Homo sapiens: one gene and its partners. The protein of the gene in region 4 interacts with the protein of the main gene of each other region in a pairwise test. Each region holds a gene or a part of one and is shown on either strand. Other genes may lie near its edges. The genes, in order: KIAA1328, L3MBTL3, ZNF438 and TSTD2.

Evidence for each region.
Region 1: the proteins of TSTD2 (region 4) and KIAA1328 interact in binary tests that used the Homo sapiens proteins (3 or more experiments, as listed by UniProt).
Region 2: the proteins of TSTD2 (region 4) and L3MBTL3 interact in binary tests that used the Homo sapiens proteins (3 or more experiments, as listed by UniProt).
Region 3: the proteins of TSTD2 (region 4) and ZNF438 interact in binary tests that used the Homo sapiens proteins (3 or more experiments, as listed by UniProt).

What each region holds. Positions count from the first base shown.
Region 1 is NC_000018.10:37,154,090-37,161,142, reverse strand, and holds part of KIAA1328 (protein hinderin), read right to left. Parts: intron 967-7,053; coding exon of another isoform or gene 944-966; coding exon 762-943; intron 1-761. UniProt on the Homo sapiens protein: Competes with SMC1 for binding to SMC3. May affect the availability of SMC3 to engage in the formation of multimeric protein complexes.
Region 2 is NC_000006.12:130,049,558-130,056,610, forward strand, and holds part of L3MBTL3 (lethal(3)malignant brain tumor-like protein 3), read left to right. Parts: intron 1-93; coding exon of another isoform or gene 94-198; coding exon 199-273; intron 274-1,691; coding exon 1,692-1,851; intron 1,852-3,301; coding exon 3,302-3,434; intron 3,435-5,613; coding exon 5,614-5,698; intron 5,699-7,053. UniProt on the Homo sapiens protein: Is a negative regulator of Notch target genes expression, required for RBPJ-mediated transcriptional repression. It recruits KDM1A to Notch-responsive elements and promotes KDM1A-mediated H3K4me demethylation.
Region 3 is NC_000010.11:30,844,094-30,846,880, forward strand, and holds the end of ZNF438 (zinc finger protein 438), read right to left. Parts: intron 1,481-2,787; coding exon 868-1,480; 3' UTR 539-867; downstream 1-538. UniProt on the Homo sapiens protein: Isoform 1 acts as a transcriptional repressor.
Region 4 is NC_000009.12:97,599,563-97,602,404, forward strand, and holds the end of TSTD2 (thiosulfate sulfurtransferase/rhodanese-like domain-containing protein 2), read right to left. Parts: 3' UTR 518-2,842; downstream 1-517. Other genes in the region: TMOD1 (tropomodulin-1), read left to right, coding at 72-136.

The DNA of each region.
Region 1 (7,053 bases), on a different chromosome or scaffold from region 4:
GAGAAGGGAAAAAAGACACTAGGAAAGAGGTGTGAGCAGGAGAGGGCTCAGAGGTCTTTTTGGTCTTTTGTTTCCTGTACATCTTTTCTGTACAATAAAGCTCAGACTTGCTCCATTCTTTTCCAAAGTCGTTCCTTTAAGGATGCCAGGAAAGATTAAGCCAAAAGCCTCTCCAGGAACAACTGGGAAACAAATAAATTTGCTTCACTCAACATTTAACATAGTTACTTATAATTGATTTCTTTAAAGTCTACCACATATAACAGGAAGTATTATTGACACTTAAAAGACTGTTAGGCAAAAAATGCTTTAGACTTGTGAGGTTTTGCTTTAGTCACAATATGGGGAATTGTCCATGACCTCTCCTCCACCCTCCCCATGTTTCCAGTCAATTGAGGATTAACTGTAGTTGTTAGGGTTTATTTTTCCAGGAGAGATTTATGTTCAATATCTTGCCCTCTTTACTCACTTGGAACATTATTTTAGTCTATGACCATACTTACTGCTGACTAATTCTTAACAGTTATTGCTTGCAAAAAGAGGGACAAGTTGGATACAGTTTTTCATTCCAGTATTCTAAGAAAAACACAGACACAATTCACTAATCTAGTAAATGTGTTACCTGTGGCCTTGCAGGCACACTTCAGTGTGTAAACATTTAACTTTTGCTCAGCATTGTAGGAAATCATCTGAAATTCATTGGCTAGCAACTACCTTCCCCTACCAGTTTCTCATTTTGCCACTACAGTTGTTAAACTTACCTCTTTGGGGTCTACATGTATCTTTCTTTTGACATGACCACTGGGCATCATCTTTCATATGCGAATGAAACCCAACTGTCTTCCTCTCCTTCCTATTCTCTCCACTGTTTGGGGGGTCTTGGTGCTTTTTAATAGATGATGATGTTCCAAGCAGCCAGCCATCACAGTTTGACTTCAATAAACTGAAAGAACAACGATGAATGAACTGTTGAAGGCACAGAAGGGAACACAGAGCACATAGATATTTAAATTCAGTATGGGTTGAAATGCAATTCATTAAGAACTCTCTTTATCTTACCTTTTATTGAGGTATAATTTAAATAATTTACTCAACGTCTATTTTGTGTCCTGTCACAACAATTTTGGAAAAGAAATGGCCTTTATTCTCAAAAAGCTTACACTGGGAGTTGGGGAAATAAGATTCAAACTGATGAAACAGCTAATAAAGTCACAGAATATGACTAAGAACCAGGCTATCTATAGAAATAAAAAGTATGCTAAAACAGGACTTGCATATCTAAGATGTTTTCCAAGTACTAAAAATGAACACTAGGGATTAAAATATCACCAATGTGCCTCACACAAACGCGTTTGTGTTTCTAATTTTCAATTGTTATTAGTATTTATTATGTACCCAGAGTACGTAAGGAGTAGTGTAACAGTGCACGTAGAAGAACTAGACTCCATACTTACATAGTTTCATTAAAAGGTCAACAAGACAAATATAGAATAAAAGGCATTTTAATGAAAATGAACACATGTACATATTTTCTTCTCTAATAAACCGTGTTCCCACCATTAGCATATTTCCTCTTATAATATTTTCTTATTTTAGGGAAAAATATTCTAATGATGTGTTATCTCTCACTATTCCACTCTTCCCTCTTCGTGTTTGTTCACAACAAACTCATGACACTTTGGTTTTGTCTTCCCCATGCCCATAAACAATGTGAAAATTAAAGAAAAAGACATGGAAATGCATAGAGGCAGCTACTCAAAAAACAAGATTCTAAAATTAAAACGTTTAAACTCCCCAGAAGCAAAGGGAATCTCTAGACAAGAACAAGCTGAATGGAGTGTTGCCAGGTCTATCACTTACTCCAGGTGGCCTTTGACCAGGATTCAAATCACATAATCTTCTATAAATGTCTCTGGTTTATATCGATCAGAATTTTTAGCAGTGTTTGCTCATATCATAATTTATTAACAAAAACCAAGAAAGTAAATGGCTTTATGTTCAGAATTATATAAAGAAAATAAAATCATTAGTTATATGGCTTTATAAAGTAGGCACAAGAAAATGTATAAAAGTGATACTCTTCTTTTTTTTTTAAATCAGAACACAGAGACCATTTTCCTCTCAGACCCACCAGAAGATGTATAACTTAGGGTTATACAAATTGCACTCACGGAACAGGGAAATACGGAAAATAAAAGTACCTTATTGTGAATGTTATATAAATTTACGTCAACCCAGAGGCCCCAAACCCAGGCAAATCCAGTGACTACATCTCTGCTTGTTCTGTAGAAAAATGAATGTGACCCCAACCATTGGCTTCCCCAAATTTGATTCATTCTCAGCTCAGCCAGACTCCCAATACTGACTGCCTTCTGCTTCTTTACAGCATTTTCACAGAAGCTTTTCTGTACCTTTATTCAAAATTCCACCTTGGTAATCCTCCATCACAACTGGAAACTTGGCTTCTAATTTCCCTAAAATAAAGATGACTATATGAAAAATTTCTTCCTTCATTTGTATTTATTTCCATATTCACCCATCTACTATTCCTCTCTTCATGTCTCAAAAAATTTTACCTTTTATTTGCACTCTTGATACCATCTTGACCCATCCCCTCTGTGACTATGGCCTGTCAATCATCTCTTTTTCTTATAACTCACAAACTCCTCCTCTAAACTGGATTTTTTCCTAGGGCTACAAACAAGAGCAGATCCTCCATTAATACCCAGTGTCAGTGAGCGTGTGGGGACAAGAGCACTTTAATACCTATTGCAGGAACCACAAATGGGTATCACCTTTTTGTGAGTGACTTGTCAACACAAAATGAAAATGCATCCCTCTTTCAACAGTTCTACTTTTATCCCACACCTGAGGCCAGAAATTTGAGATCGGACTGGGCATCACAGCAAGACCCCATCACTAAAGAAAAAAAATTGTTTTAAATTAGCCAGGCATGGTGGCATGTGCCTATAGTTCCAGCTACTTGGGAAGCTGAGGCAGCAGGATAGCTTGAGCCCAGGAGTTTGGGCTTATAGTGAGATATGACCATGCCACTGCACTCCAGCCTGGGAGACAGTGAGACTCTGTTTCCAAAAAAAAAGAAAGAAAGAAAGAAAGAAAAAAAAAGGAATTTCTCCTGCAGAATTACATGAACAACAGCATGAGAATATTTGTTTAAGGATAATCACTGGAGAATTATTTGTAATAGTGAAAAACTGAAAGCAAATATCATTCTATAAGAGAATGAATAAATTATGGTACATATTAATTATAAAGAACACTATTCAGCCATTAAAAAGAATGAGGTAATTCTTTTTTTTTTTTTTTTTTTTTTTGGAGAGGAGTCTCACTCTGTTGCCCGGGCTGGAGTGCAGTGGCGCAGTCTTTGCTCACCACAACCTCCACCTTCCAGGTCAAGTGATTCTCCTGCCTCAGCCTCCCGAGTGCTGGGACTACAGGCACACACCACCATGTCCGGCTAATTTTTGTATTTTTAGTAGAGATGGGGTTTCACTATGTTGGCCAGGCTGGTCTTGAACTCCTGACCTCGTGATCTGCCCACTCGGCCTCCCAAAGTGCTGGGATTACAGGTGTGAGCCACCACACTTGGCTAGGATGAGGTAATTCTTTACACTGATGAGAAGAAACTTCATGACATGCTATTAAAATAAAAGCAATTTGCAATTATAGAGTATATAATGTGATCTCATTTTTATAAAAATAAAAATATACAAAAATATTTTTAAAGTTCTGGATGGATAAATGTCAAACTAGAAGGGAGTAGAAGAAATAGAGGGAAGAGTTTTATATTTTAATTTATATAACTCTGAATGTTTTAATTTCTTCCAATAGGCATGCATTTTATAATTTAAAAACAAACAAAAAACTCTCACCATGTCCCTTCCATTACCATCTCCTCTCTCCTTGTCTGCTGAACGTCTAGAAAACAATAATTTATTCTAACAGACATACCGACTAGAACTTGTTTTTAAAGAACAAATCAAAAGGCCTTTCTTCTTTGAACAGTCTTGCTTGTTACTAGATCACCCTACAGAAATTCAAGAAATTCAAGAAAACATTTTTTCTTGAAATGTTTTCTCCCTTGGTCTTCATAACACATTATCCTGACTGGTTTTCTGGTTTTAGGAGACTTCTTCCTTCCCCTTAGATGCAGACATTGCAAAAGTCTGTCCCTGTCCTCTTCCCTCTTAGTACTTTCTTGGTGATCCTTGCCACACCTCTATATCTGCAAGTACGATTTCTAAACAGATTCTTCTAGTTCACAGTGCTTGCCAAAACTGCTGACCTGATCAAGTATCTGATGAAAAGCTGTAAAGCGATGTCTATTCCTGCCTCCCAAACCAACTCTTGCTAAAGCAATCCAGTATCTTTATCTTGAAACTACTTCCTCCTTCTGTTTCCATTCTCACTTAATGATATCACCATCCTCCCAGTCACTCATAAGAAATCTCAGTTGTCTCAACTTCTGCTCTCCTTATTCCTTTTTAATAAATTTCCTAATCAATCATTCACTTATATATTCATCAGATATTGACTGAAGAACACACTTTATGGGCCTGATATGTACTGTGAGACTGGGCTGGGCAAAATGGAAAACAAACATTTACAGAGGACTTATTTTATGCTAGGTGCTGGGTATACAAACATGAGAAAGCCCTCGTTCCCATTCTTTTTTTTTTTTTTTTTTTTTTTTTTGAGGCGGAGTTTCTCTCTTGTCACCTAGGCTGGAGTGCAATGGCACAATCTCGGCTCACCACAACCTCTGCCTCCCGGGTTCAAGCGGTTCTCCTGCCTCAGCCTCCCGAGTAGCTGGGATTACAGGCATGCAATCCCATGCCTGTAATTTTGTTACATGCCCGGCTAACTTTGTATTTTTTAGTAGAGATGGGGTTTCTCCATGTTGGTGAGGCTGGTCTCGAACTCCCGACCTCAGGTGATCTGCCCGCCTTGGCCTCCCAAAGTCCTGGGATTACAGGTGTGAGCCACCGAGCCCGGCCCAGCCCTGGTTCCTATTCTTAAAGAGATTTTAGTGGGGGAGACAGACGTGGAAACAGAATTTTTAATACCATATGCCAAATGCAGTAATTCAGGAATATACTGGATGTTATGAGAGTGCAAGGGCAAGGCACCTAACTTTATTTGCATAACAGAAGAGAGATTCCTGAAATACTCAAACTTAACCTTGAAAGATAAGGAAAAATGTAAGAATGTTCTAGGTAAAATAAAAAAGTATTAGCAAATATACCAACAAATGAAACTTCAGTTCATATTTTGGGAAAGTTAAATAGCTAGGTATTGTTACAGCATTAAACTTTGGGTGTGTGGTAGGGAGGAACGGAGATGAAGCAGGTAAGACAGGGCAGGTCAGATCATGAAAGGTTGCGTTTTCCATGCTGAGGGGCTTGAACTCTATCTTGTGGCCAAGGTGGAGTCACTGAAAGGCTCTCAGGAGAAAAATGATATGATCCAACCAGAATTTATGAAAAATTACTCTGGCACCATTTAGAGAATGGGCTTCAAGAAACTGGATGAGTTGGAAGGCTGCTGAAACAGCTCTGGTGAGAGATGAAGGTTTGCAATAGAGAAGCGGTAGTAGGAACGGAAAGACATAGTTTAAGAAATATTTAGGATTTAAAAAGGGTAGAACTTGATGTAAGAGAGAGGGAGAGAAAAGTCAAGAATGACTGCCAGAATTTTGGGTTGATAAGCAATACAGAGGAGGATTGGGGAAGGGTGGGAAAAATTAACTGCAGCTTGAGATGCTTATGGAACATCTGAGAAGATATTTCAAGAAAGTAATTTGATCAGTAACTCCATGGCTTTTTGCTATTGGCTAAGTGAGTTTAGAGGTGGTAGAGTTGAGGGAGGCAGAGTTGAGAAAGAATATGCTTCAATTTCAATTTCCTTGGTGTAGGAGGAGATACAGTCATTCTTGTGAGTGAGTAAAGCAGGTATTGAGAAGAGAGGTGAAGGTTTGGAGTATGTATTGAGGGAATTCGAAATAGAAATGAAAAGAAAAAGATTTTCCTGAAATGTTGAGGCCCTAACAGAAATAGAAATCATCCATTTGTAGCAGGGCTCAAGTGCAGAGATTAAAAAGCAGAGAAAGCAGTGTGAGAGCTCAATCTAGGGTTAGGATTTTTACTGGGACAATGCAGCAGACTGGGGGTCAAGGGAAATAAATATATTAATGTAGTATAGGTCAACCATTCGGTCCAGGAAGAAAGTGAGGCAACAGGGACTGAAAAGACTGGCAGAAAAATGAGGGGAAATAAATAATTTAGATATCCCTTTAAGGTAAAGCGAAAATAAAACAGCAACAACACCAGAAATATAAAAACCCTTGGTATGGTGTATGTGATAAACATGAGAATATAAGCTGTAAAGAAAGAGGCTGGGATGGCAGAGTCAATGATTTTTCTGATGAAACCATGGTGGGTGATAGCAAGCTCTGGGTGTCACCATGGATGATGCTGGAGTGAATTGAGGAACGCAGAAATTCTTTAGCTATGGCAATGGATACATCAACCATATGGATATTGGGATCTCACAGAATGATGGTAGGAGTTATGGGGGAGAAAGTGACTTTAAGTGGGACGTCAAGGTCCTAGTGAGATAATGATGGAAAACAAAGGATGGAAAAGGATGGACTGCTGCAGTAAAACTAGACATATATTTAGATTCACATAAATAAAGAGATATGCAAGAAAAATGCTGGCACTCCTCTCTCTGTTGTTTATCAAATGTGACAGAAAGAATGGCCTCTAATAGAAGTGGTGCTCTCAGAAAAGATGCTGATTTTAGGCAGTGATTCACAGCTTGGCAATACATTTAAATAATCTGGGGAATTTTTAATAAGAGCGATGGACTGAGTCTCACCCACTTGTCGAAACTGAATTAATCAGTCTAGGGTGGGACCTGGATATTATTTGCTTCCCTCTCTCACTCTCCTCTCCTTTTAAAAAAGTTCTATAGGTGATTCTAATGTTCAGATAGGATTGAAAATTACTGAGTTATTGTGAAGAGTGGGAG
Region 2 (7,053 bases), on a different chromosome or scaffold from region 4:
GTTTTAAAATAACTATAAACTGTCTTCTTTGTCCTAATGCCAGATCTGTAGTAGCACAAGGTTAGTTGGAAATTAAGTAAATCCATGTTGTAGCCTACACAGGTGATTTAGCCAAAAGCCTGCCACTTTTTTTCTCATCTACTCCGATGGTTGTAACTAACACCTATATGCTGATGACTCCTAAATCTACATCTCCAGCCCCGACCTCTCCCCCGAGCTCCAGGCCCGTATTTCCACCTGCCTACTGGACATCTCCACCTGGATGTCCCACAGGTACCTCAAACTCCACATGTCTGAAATGCAATTCATTTTCTATTTCTTTCTCCCCTCCCCACAAACCTGCTCTTTCTTCCCTAACCCATATTTCAGTTGACAATAGCACCATCCACCCAGTGGACAAGCAAGAAACACAGGAGTCATCCTGAATTTGTTCTTCCCATCCCCATATCCTGTTACTTATACCTCTTGATTTTTATTTCCTAATATGTCTCAGATCTGGCCTTTTCTATCTATCATCTTTGCCATGGCCTTAATGTAGGCTCTTCTCAACTCTCATCTGAACTATTGCAGATGTCACTCTACTTCTAATTTTACCCCCTTCCAATTGGTCCTGCACCTTGAAGCCAGAGGAACTTAACGTAGATTGCTTATCTGACACTTCACTGATTTCTCATTGCCTTTTTAGCAGAACATACAAAGATCTGGGTGCCTGCACCTACCTGCTCGCCTTGTCTCCTCAGTCTCTGTTTCCTTCTTTGTATGTTGTGTTCTGGCAGTGCCAGCAGCACAGAATTACGTGTAATTTTCCCAACACATCATGTGGTTTCATGCTTTCTTGCCTTTACTCATACTGCTTTTTCTGGCTCAAATGCCATTTCTCTCTTTGTCCAGTTGGTAAATTCCTCTTTGGCCTTCAAAACCCTGTTGAGGCTTTCTATCAGAAAATCCTTCTCTGACCTTACCCCAGGCTGAATGAATCACTTCTTCTGTACTACTTCTGGACCTTGTTTATGCCTCTAGTATTGCATGTATCACATTTTATTATAAATACTGGTTTTCTTGCCTCTCTTTTCTTCTAGACTGTGAGCTCTCTTGGGCAAGGTCTCTACTGTCATTATTAATGTCTAGAATAAATTGGTGCCTAATAACTGCTGGCTGAATGAATGATTAGCCTAACAATTCAGGCAAAAGGAAATGCGAGTTTCTACACAATTTGGATAGCTATGAGTCAGGAAATGTACTACATTGAAAGCGTAATAGAAGAGATGTTGATTTAGCCAATTAAGTAAAACAAAATCATTCATCAAAAGATTATAAATGTGAAATAAAAGAAGATCCTCTGAAATTTTCTGAAAGATACAAATATAGAAGAAGTTTCTATAGATCGATATATGCGTCTTCTGAATTTAGTGACTAGTGAAATTTTCTTCATTTTACTTTGAACTCTGTAGAAAAAGCCTTGGGCAAGCTTTTATCCTTTCTGCAGAATATTTTTTCATTATTTGAATGACTTGAGTGATTTTTACAGAGCCCATACCCCCCGAAAACACTATCATTTGATCATTCATTCATTCAGCAAACACTATTCTTTATTGTGTTGCTAACAAAATTATTAGAAGAAAAAGTTTGATTGTATTTTAGAATGTCTTCTGTCATGGTTGTAATTTGCATTTCTTCTTTTCATCTTCTAGTCTTTTCAGAGAAGACTGGGATGCCTTTCAGGTTGAAGGATCCAGTGAAAGTAGAAGGGCTTCAGTTCTGTGAGAACTGTTGTCAGTATGGCAACGTAGATGAGTGTCTTTCTGGAGGAAACTATTGCAGCCAGAATTGTGCTCGGCACATCAAAGATAAGTAGGTTTTTGCCCCATTCCATCTATAAATTGAGTTTTAGATTCCAAAGTCATGGTGCCTGAGAATATAGAAGTTTTATGCTCTCGGACATTGATCACCTATTGATACCTTTTTCCCAGAGACTTTTCCTTTAGGGCCACATGGGCCCTAACCCCTATATGGGACCTGGTGACGTCTGTCATGCCTGGTCTGAGTTGTATTACTAATATTCTGCCTGCAAAACAGCCTCTGCCTCTGCCTTCAGTCTTCCATTTCCATTCATTTGATTGTCTTCAGCTAAGAGTATTTAGTTTTTTCTGGGCTATATACACATTTCGATGACACTGACATTTATAGAAACATAGTTTTGTTTATATTTTGGGAATTCTTAGGTAACTCGGTTAAAACTCCACCTACGGCATAAAGCTTCCACTGATTCGTAATCAGCTGAATGGAAATGGCCATAGGGAAGAGTGTAGTGAGTTGGGTCACTGATGATCTCAAGGTGTGGACTGAGGATTATGAGACAGAGGCATCAGCTGTAACTGGTAGTGGTGTGTGACCTTCCCATTTGGGGACAGTCTGACAAAGTTCAGCTTATCACCAAGAAGGTGTTTTTCTTGCATATCATTGTATACTACAAAGAAATGACTGGACATTTATATTTTAGTGGCATTTCCCATGTATTTTAATCAGCACAGGCTTGGGAAATGTTTTCTTTTTCTTTTTTTTTTTTTGAGATGAAGTCTTGTTCTGTCGCCAGGCTGGAGTGCAGTGGCGTGATCTTGGCTCACTGCAACCTCCACATTCCCAGGTTCAAGCAATTCACCTGCCTCAGCCTCCCGAGTAGCTGGGACTACAGGCGCACGCCACCACACCCAGCTAGTTTTTTCTATTTTAGTAGAGACGGGGTTTCACCATGTTAGCCAGGATGGTCTCAATATCCTGACCTCATGATCCGCCTGCCTCAGCCTCCCGAAATGCTGGGATTAAAGGTGTGAGCCACTGCGCCCAACTGGAACTGTCTTGTTTTTCTTGGATAACTGATGTTTCACAATGTTACACTTAGCCTTTTTTCAATTGGATTTGTCATTCTTAATAACTGCTAGATCCTTCTTTGACCCTGAAAACAAATATCTCTAAATAATCAATTCTTTTATTAGTATAGATGGTAGATGTGACAGACAAATAACTTGTTAGAACCTATTTCATACATATTGCTGGCCCCCTTTTGAAATTAATATATAAGGTAATTTTCATTTTCTGCCCTGACAGACAGATGTCATATGTAATAGTTGTTTTCAGTGTTCCTGATATATGATATTCTCATGCCTACAGATTTCTCCTGGTAGTTAAAGATTTTTCCTTTGCAGGGTGATTTTTTTTTAATGATTGTTGCATTGATAATCAACAAGTAGATGTTTGATAGGTATTGTCTCTTGTCACTATTTTGGGTTTATAAACACAACAGAGATCAGAAGGAAGAAAGGGACGTAGAAGAAGACAATGAGGAAGAAGATCCTAAGTGTAGTCGGAAGAAAAAACCAAAATTATCTCTGAAAGCTGACACCAAGGAGGATGGAGAAGAGAGAGATGATGAAATGGTGAGTGCCTCTGCCTGACACCAGGAGCACAGGGATGCATCTTTAGTGGGTAGCATCACAGTCACAAGCACTGCTCTGGAGCCCACTGAGTTCAAATGTGGGTTCCAGGACTATCTGTGTTAGTGTCAGTAAGTTACATGGCCTCTGTGTGCCTTGCTGTCCTGATCTCAAAATGGGAATCATAAACAATAGTATCCTTCTCTCAGGGTGAAAAAGTGGGATGTCCTGAAATTTAGTGCTAGGGTGAAAGGGAACATTTAAAAACCTTCAGTCTTGTAGATGAATCTTAAATTCCTCTTGACAACACAATGCCAATCTCATTTCTTTAAATTGCAGACAGATCTCATAAAACTATCTGAGTGGGCTGGGCGTGGTGGCTCATGCCTGTAATCCCAGCACTTTGGGAGGCCGAGGCCGGCAGATCACGAGGTCGGGAGATCGAGACCATCCTGGCTAACCCGGTGAAACCCCTTCCTTACTAAAAATACAAAAAATTAGGTAGGCGTGGTGGCAGGCTCCTGTAGTCCCAGCTACTCGGGAGGCTGAGGCAGGAGAATGGCGTGAACCTGGGAGGTGGAGCTTGCAATGAGCTGAGATTGCACCACTGCACTCCAGCCTGGGCGACAGAGCGAGACTGTGTCTCAAAAAAAAAAAACAAAAAAAACTATCTGAGTGGTTAAAAAATGGCACACAAATATCAGGTATATTTGGGGAAAAGCCATTCAAAATGTGTGAATTAAAACATAAATATCATATTCCTAAAGGCATCTATTAATGGTTTTATAGGAAAAGGGAACTTTGAGATCTGGAAGTGTTTCCGTTGAGATCGGTATTGTACAACTGTTACTTGGGAGTCACTGTTCTAGGAGCTGAGAATACAGGGATGCATAAGACAAATAGATGACATAGAGTCTCTCCTGGCAGAGACACTGCATTCTTGTTTAGGGGGTAGTTAATCTACAAACAAAATGAACAGGAGAAATGTCACCTAGTGATAAGTGCTACGTTGAGAATTAAAATAGGGCATTAGGATTGGCTGACTACTTTAGGTTGGGTTGTCAGGGAGCCCTCTCAAAGACGATGGCATGAACAGTGTGATCTGATGAATGAAGAGGAGTCAGCTATGTGAAGTTGAGAGTGAGGCGTCTTCTGGGTAGTAGAACTTCCAGAGGAAAGTCCTTAAGGTAAGAACTTGCACAGCATGTTTTGTTCGAGGAAATAAAAGGAAGTCTGGTCACTGGTTTAGGAGAGGGTGGAGTAAGATGAAGTTGAAGAGGTACCTGTGGTCCAGGGCATGTAGGGTTTTATGGTAAACAAGAGTCGAGGGTGTTCATTGTATTCTGAGTGTCAGGGGAAGCCTCTGGAAAGTTAAGACAAGGGAATGCTTTGATATGATGTATGTTTTAAATGACCACTGTAGCCCTGAGTGGAATCAGGGAAACCAGTTAGGAGTTTATTGCAGTAGACAACGTAAGAAGGCTGAAGATGATGGAAGTCCGTGGATTTGGGAATCAATGTTAGAGGTAGGGTTGTCAGAGTGTGTGAGGAAAAGAGAAAAATCAGGGATAAAACTTTGGCTTTAACAATTGGCTGGATAATCCTGTCTCTTACTGAGAATGGGAAGATGAGGGTGGAGTGCAGAACACAGAGTCCTTTGGCCATGATGGGTTTGAAATGCTGATTAACCATCCAGGTGAAGATCCCAAGTAGGCATTTGTCTACAGCCACATGGAGTAAGGAAGAGGAAGCTGAGGGTGTGGATTGGGAGTATCTGGCCTATGTAAGATGACCTTGAAAACCCAGGGAAAGGGACTAGAAAGAGTAGAGAAGGGAACTGGATTGGAGGAGACATCAGCAGAGGAGACAAAGAGGAGCCAGTAAGGCGTGAGGAAAATCAGAGCAGAGCGGTCACGCAGCTGAGAGCAGAAAGTGTTTCAAGGAGCGGGGAGCGGTGTCCATGCCCTTCCAACCGGTAACACGTGGATACAGTCTTATTTTGTAATAACCTCAGGCCAAAAGCAACAGTTTTCAGATGAACTATATTCTTACTTTCCTTAAAAGTTACAAAGTAAAACTGAAGAAAAGAACAACAGAAAAAGTGCTTTCTGATAGCTCTCTAACTATTCACTGGTGCCAATTTCTTGAACTTTAAAGTCATAATTTTCCTTTCTTTTTGTAGGAGAACAAACAAGATGTAAGAATCCTGAGGGGTTCGCAGAGAGCACGGAGGAAAAGACGAGGGGATTCGGCTGTACTAAAGCAGGGTGAGCTGATGAAAATAAAGTCTTACTTGTAACTTTATGAAATTGGAAATGGTTCACACAGGTGGAAATTTTAGTCATGCCACTTAAAGTATTACTTCAGGATTTTCTTTGATTCAGTTTGGTCAATAAAGATTTGAGATTTTGAGGATAAGGAAAAAAATGAAAATTCTTAACTTTCAAGTGGTTTCAGGGTAAGCATGAGAACTGTCTTCCTCCCTCCCTCTCTCCCTCCCTCTCTCCCTCCCTCTCTCCCTGCCTCTCTCCCTGCCTCTCTCCCTCTCTCCCTCCCTGTCTCCCTCTCTCCCTCCCTTTCTCCCTCCCTCCTTCTCTCCCTCTCTCCCTCCCTCTCTGTCTCCGCCTCTCCCTGTCTCCCTCCCTCCCTCCCTCCCTCTCTCTCCCTCCCTCCCTCTCTCTCCCTCCCTCCATCCCTCTCTCCCTCTCTCTTTCTCTCTCTCTCTCTCTCTGTTCCCCTCATCAAGTAGGTGTTTCCTGCCTCTGCTTCTCTATAAAACCTCTGTTCTTGTTCATTTCCCACAGTTTTAGGTTTTTAATGTTCCCTCTCAAAACATGAGCTCCTGGCGTGGAACCTGTTTTTTGCCTTCTCTTTTCATCTCTTCTGTCTTCTCTTCCCTTCCCTTCCCTTCTGTCCCCTCCCCTTCCCTTCCCTCCCCTCCCCTCCCCTCTCTTTTCGAGATGGATTCTCACTCTGTCACCCAGGCTGAAGTATGGTGGCGCAATCTCGGCTCACAGCAGCCTCCACCTCCTGGGTTCACGTGATTCCCCTGCCACAGCCTCCCAAGTAGCTGGGATTACAGGTGTGCACCACCAAGCCTGGCTAATTTTTGTATTTTTAGTAGAGATGGGGTTTCATCATATTGGCCAGGCTGGTCTCGAACTCCTGACCTCAAGCCATCTGCCCGTGTCTACCTCCCAAAGTGCTGGGATTACAGGCATGAGCCACTGTGCCTGGCCCTTTTTTTTGTTTGTTTCATTGTTCCTCAGGCAGCATTTTATTTCCAGGAGGAAACCGGCCCTGAAGCCCTTCCCTTTAGTATTTGTCTTGATGTACTTTTCTGCTTATTCTGTGTGGACCTTGGGTCACTTCCATAGAGGCCCTGGGGGATGTCCCCCACAAGGCTCTATCCCCTTGCCTGCCTCAGCTTGCAGCCTGCACAGTCAGTCATACTGTCCCGACAAACCAGGGCCATGAACCAGGTGCTTCTCCTCAGTGCCGGGGTGCATTCTAGCCTTGTTCTGTTAATTCCTCAAAAAACTGGAAATAGCCCCACCTGCCCTAGGCACACAGCTTAACTTTTGTGTCTTTTCAGAGATGACCTTCTATTTTACATCACTGA
Region 3 (2,787 bases), on a different chromosome or scaffold from region 4:
AAGTACAGTTCCATCTAAAATTGATCAGCTAGCGACAACCCTCTGAAGTTACTTGGGAGTGAGGGAAAGCAGTTGAGACCCCTACACATCTGGACTGAACTATCTAGTTCATTTTCCAGGTTGTAAATTTTCTGGTCCCAAAGACTACTTGAAAATAACTTTTTACCAAGCAAGTAGACTTTTTATTAGCTGAAGTACTAAATTTTTTAAAAAATTATTTTGATATGGAACACTACAGCTATAAGACTTGCCAACAACTAATCTTCAATGAAATGTGCATTTAAGAAAATAGCAAAATTACAAGAAACAAAAATCTGAGTCCTGAAAACATGGATTTTAAATTATTGTAGATGACAATCTTATTAAAATACTGCTCTATATCATATTCAAATAAACCAGAGAATTTAATAAATATCAGCATTTACCATCTAACTTGATACTATGGTTGAGATTAAAAGGGTTTTGCTGCCTGGACATTTTTGACATTTGTCAATCTATATAAGCAGAAAACATCTGAACAAAAGGAAGGACACATGCATGTTTTCACTGAGAGCTGTATTTGAAGAACAGCCTATATTCTGCTAAATTTCAATCTTCAAATTTTGATCTTTTTATTTATTCTGAAAGTCTAAGATATTAAGAATCAGTACGTATTTTAAAATAAGACTGCATATAGTTAGAAAAATATGCTTCGAGAGCTTATATTTTATTTCGTTAAGAAAATAAAACCATGTACAAAAATCATTTCTGTTCACTCACACCAATCCTGTTGTTTGATCTTTGTGACTAAGCACCACCATAAAGCACGAAGCTCTGAAGGAAGGTGGCGGCAGAGCTCTCTCCTTAACCCCAGGCTGCCTTGGGGTCTCATTTCTCAGCTTCACTGGAAAGTTCGATCACTCCCTGGTTGGAGACCGTATTTAAAATAGCCCACAGTTTGGAAGGGTCCTCACAGTTATGCTGGTGCTTCCAGTGGTGGAGGAGGTCCTCTTTCCGTCCCAGCATCTCTGCACAAAGCAGGCAGTTAAAGCCTGAATGGGACCACAAGAGAAACGTGTGGAGGCCAGGACACTCAGGGCCCTGGCAGGTTTCCCTTGGCTTGTTGGTTCCTGACTGGGGTCCTTCATTTTCCATGAGCATTTCCACGCCATTCTGATGAAGGTGGAGCTGCCTTTTCAGTCTTGGACATGCATGTGATTCCTCGGAGGAGGAATGAACCTTCTCCGGCTTCCCTCTCTCAGGATGCCTTTTCCAGTCGGGGCTAGCGTGCTGCACCAACTCTTCCTGAGTCCCCTTGCTTCCTGGGAAGGTCCCTTCTTGTAGCCTGCCCTCAATTTCCTCTCCATGAACATCAAGTAAATGAAATTTTATTTCCGCAAAAGACTGAGCAGTAATCTGACAACGACCACATTTGATTTGTAATTTGACTTCGTCTGCCTGGTTTAGAAGGAAGTCTTCTTCCAGGTTGGACTTGTTTTCCCTGAAAAGGCCAATAATAATGAAGATAAGATTTCATGGAAAAATGCAATTGGAATCTTTCCTCTCAGCTGTCAGCCTTCAGGGATCTAAAACATAACACTGACGAGAAAGACAAGGGCTGGGGTAAACAGAGAGCACCTGGGAAGACCTTCTGCAAGGACCGTGGTGAATACTAATTGTCACTCCTGCTTGTGGCCACACATTTCTCCAGCTACCAGGGTTCATTTAGTCAACAGTCCTCTTCACGCATCTGTCCCAGGCGAGCTAACTCGTCTTTGGTTACCACAGGGACAGGAGCAATCACGTGGAAGAGTCACGTAAGAGCGCGTGAAGGGCACGGGAACACCCTCGGTTCTGTTGAAGGTAACGGTCCCACCCTACCCACTGTGGCTCTCCCTAACCTTGAGCACCAATACCTTCTATTCAATTTTGGCTCACTCTGTCATGTTCAGTAAAAATAAAGGGTGCCTACCCTATTTCTTCCTTGCTTTTCTAGAGTTTCTCCTTTTTCTTAGACATTTCTGTCCCCTTTAAGACCTCTGTGCCTTTCACTAATGAACCATGAAACCTCACTTCTTCCTTCTTTTCCTAGAGTTAGATTTTGATTTTTAGGTACAATGTCCAAACTACATTTGGCAAGAGCGTCTGTTTTCATTTGGGGAAGAGGAGAAGATTTCATATTCAGAAAGGAGCCAGTGAGCACCCAGCTGAAGGTGCAGCCGGGACTTGTGGGGCTAGTCCTGAGAGTGTCAGGTTCATTTGTGCAGGGTTGGCCAGGGCCACTGCACCACCTGCACCTTGCCTGCTGTTGCTGCTGGGAAAACATGGAGAGGAGGTGGGCAGTCCCTGAAACCTGCCGCCATGAGAGCCACTGCGATGGGGCCAGGCTGAGTCACCTGCTGGCAGGGGAAAACAGCACACTAGGGCATGCAGGAGTGGGTAGAGAGGGGCCCTGAGGCAGAGCTGGGCCAGGGGTGGTGCCACACTTCATGGAGCCAGTGGGAGCTGGGGACAAGCACGAGCCCTGCCCTTTCCAAGTTGACGGTGTGGGAGCTTACCAGGCACAACTGCCTGCAGCTGCCCAAGCTGCAGCTGTGACCCAGGCACCCCTGTGCTCTTGGAAGCTGGGAGCAGGCAGGAGCGCTCCTGCCCTCCCAGGCATCACTGTAGCTACCCTGCTGTGGCTGCAGATCCAGGCATCTCTGCACTCTCAGGGGTCCAGGAAGGCCCCTTTCCCCCCACGGGCTCAAGAAGCACCTGCTCCTGCTGCCTGGCTTCTCCCTGCTGTCAGCACCTGCTCCAATCTCA
Region 4 (2,842 bases):
TTCTCAGCAACAGTGCTGGCCCCTGGTCTACAGGGAAAAGTGCCTTATATCTTATCTCCATTCCTTTCCAGTGAGGAAGAGGAGGCTTGCGGACCTGACTGGGCCCATCATTCCCAAGTGCCGGAGTGGTGTCTAGTGTGTGGCGGTGGAGTCCATGCCTTTGAACTGGATGTGTTCTATTGATGACCTGTGCTCTGCAGGGGAAACCAGAAGGCAAAATGCTGGCAGCATGAAACCCTTTTGTGGTTCAGTTCTTTATGCACTAAGGTTTTAGGTTGACTAGTGGTTGTAGTTGAAAATTTTATAAAATACCGTTAATGTGAAGTTTTTCTTTAGTCACAGAAGTTGAATCTGGTTATTATTTAAAAACTAGAAGCCCCCAAACCAGCAGATCTTACTGAAGATGATGTTCCAGCAGCAGCGACTTAGCCCCAGGAGCCCAGTTTCAATGGCCTTGCTGTGTGGTGTTTCAAGTGCATTTAAAATGTGTGACACAGAAACGGCACACTCTTCCACATGCTTTTGAAGTATTATAAAACACTTTATTACAAATTTGTCTTAGCTATTAGCAAATAAAACTGATTATCATTCTTTATTAACCCTCCTTGGAATTTTGAAAACCTCGATTAAAGTTGCCAAATTGATTACTGGATCCAGAACACAATTTTCCCCTCAGAACAGATAGACAGACTGAAGCCACTGAACTCTGCCAGGAGTCAACATGAGATTCCTTTTGCTGGATATGCAGAAATGATAGGAAAAAAACCAATGGTGAAATTTCAAGTTTCAAAAACCAACCTTTCATTACCAATCCCAGGCAACAAACATGTCCCTGAGTGTTCTTTAAGAACATTTGGGATTTATGTACAATTTAATACTGGAGTTAGAACTTTTTCCTTATTGAATGCCAACCTTATGATGGATGTGAAAATCTACGGCCAAATACTTTTGAAAACACCTTTCTATATTGCACAGTGGGCAAATGGCTTATGTGAGGTAAGACACTAGAGGGATAAATTTCCAGATCAACATGGCTATGGTATTTAGTAATGGCCCAGCTTAGAGACTTCAGCTACTGATCTCATCACTTATTAGACAAATTGCTGCTGACCTTACGCCTGTATATTAAGCCTCCGCAGGATGCCGGACAATGGTGAAGAAACTCCAGATATCAAGGAATTGGGAAATCCTGGCCAAACCACCCCAAGATGATTACACTGAAATGTAGTATTAGTACTGCTGCCAGATCTCTTTTTAACATCATGTGCGTCTCTTGGGATCCAGCAAAAGTGTTAAGCCACAATGCCCTTGTGCCTTTTAATATACCACAGTGCCAGTTAAACTAATATTTTTGTTTGTTGCTTTTGGGAGTTATTTTCATTAGTGATTTCAGCAAATCTCATGATAAAGGACAAGGTCAAGAACTCCAGAGCACTGAGCAGAGAGGCTGGTGATGAAAAGGTGAAGGCCTGCGCACTGAACTGTAAGGCAGTGGGCAGTACAGGGTAACTGGAGGCGGGGCCAGGGCCTCAGCGCTATGGAAGAGTGTCCACTGAGGCTGCACATGGCCCAGGAGTGGCACCATGTTGCAGGGACAACCATCCCCATTTGGCTTCTCCTTAAAACACAATTGCAGCTGCATTCTGCATCGCTGAAAACTGCAATATAATATTAAATCTGTTGGTCTATGCATGGCTGCGTATGTGTTTCTTGGAACCTGTGTGACAGGGACATGTGCCTGGCACACTGGCCAGAAGACTGGGCAGCCACCATGGCAGTGCTGGATGACCTCAGTAAGAATGTGTCATGTATTCCAGGTGCTGATCTAAAAACTGTGGCTCAAATGTCACCGAGCTTATATGAAGCTCCCAGAGAGAACATTTAAAAGCTCAGAGAGTAAGTGCTGGGGAAAGCAGAGCTATCAGAGGAAATCTCTCATAGAAACGAAACCAAACCAACAGAAAATGAAGAAGGCCACATCTTTAAGGCCACCTCTGCCTCTATCAGATGAGCTGCTGGTCTAGATCAGGGGCTGGCAAACTTTTCTGTAAAAGGCCAGACAGTAAAAATTTCCGATTTTGCAGGCCACATAGTGTCTGTTGCAACTATTCAACTCTGCCATAGATCATGTGTAAAGGAATGGGTGTGGCTGTTCAATAAACTATACAGTTGACCCTTGAACAATATGGGTTTGAACTGCATGGCTGCACTTATATATGGATTTTTTTCAACCATACAGGTTGAAAATACAGTATTGGCAGGGGGCGAAACCTGCGTACATGGAGGGCTGATTTATCACATACGTGGGTTCTGTAGGGCCCACTGTGGGACTTGAGTATGCATTGGGTTTTTGTATACTCAGGCGTTCTGGAACTATCCTCCATGTATACCAAAGGATGGTTATTTCTACAAAAGCAGGAGGTAAGCCCAATGCACAGCTTGCAGATTCCCCTCAGGCGAGAGACAGAGGTTAAGGGTAGATGGCAGATGACCTAAGTGGCTTGTTTTAGGAGGCCACTCCCAGGGCCACAGCTTTCATGTGTTTGCCACCAGGGTAGAAGGTCTGCTGACAAGGGCAATGACTACTAACAGCCCCAGCTGCATGGAACAGAAAGGGCATATGCTGTGGCCACCAGGCTCAGGCTCTATCCCTCAGCAGCTTTGGGATCCCATGCAGCTCACCTATTTTCTGTGCTCTAGCATCATCCAAATCAGAATGTCTCAGGTAAGTGGTAGACAACGTGACTCCTCCCCTCCCGCTGTGAAGTGTAGACGGCTGCCACGGTGGCAGCGGCCAGAACTGAAGTTCCCGATTTCTCTGTTTCTGCAGTCTTGCCATGCT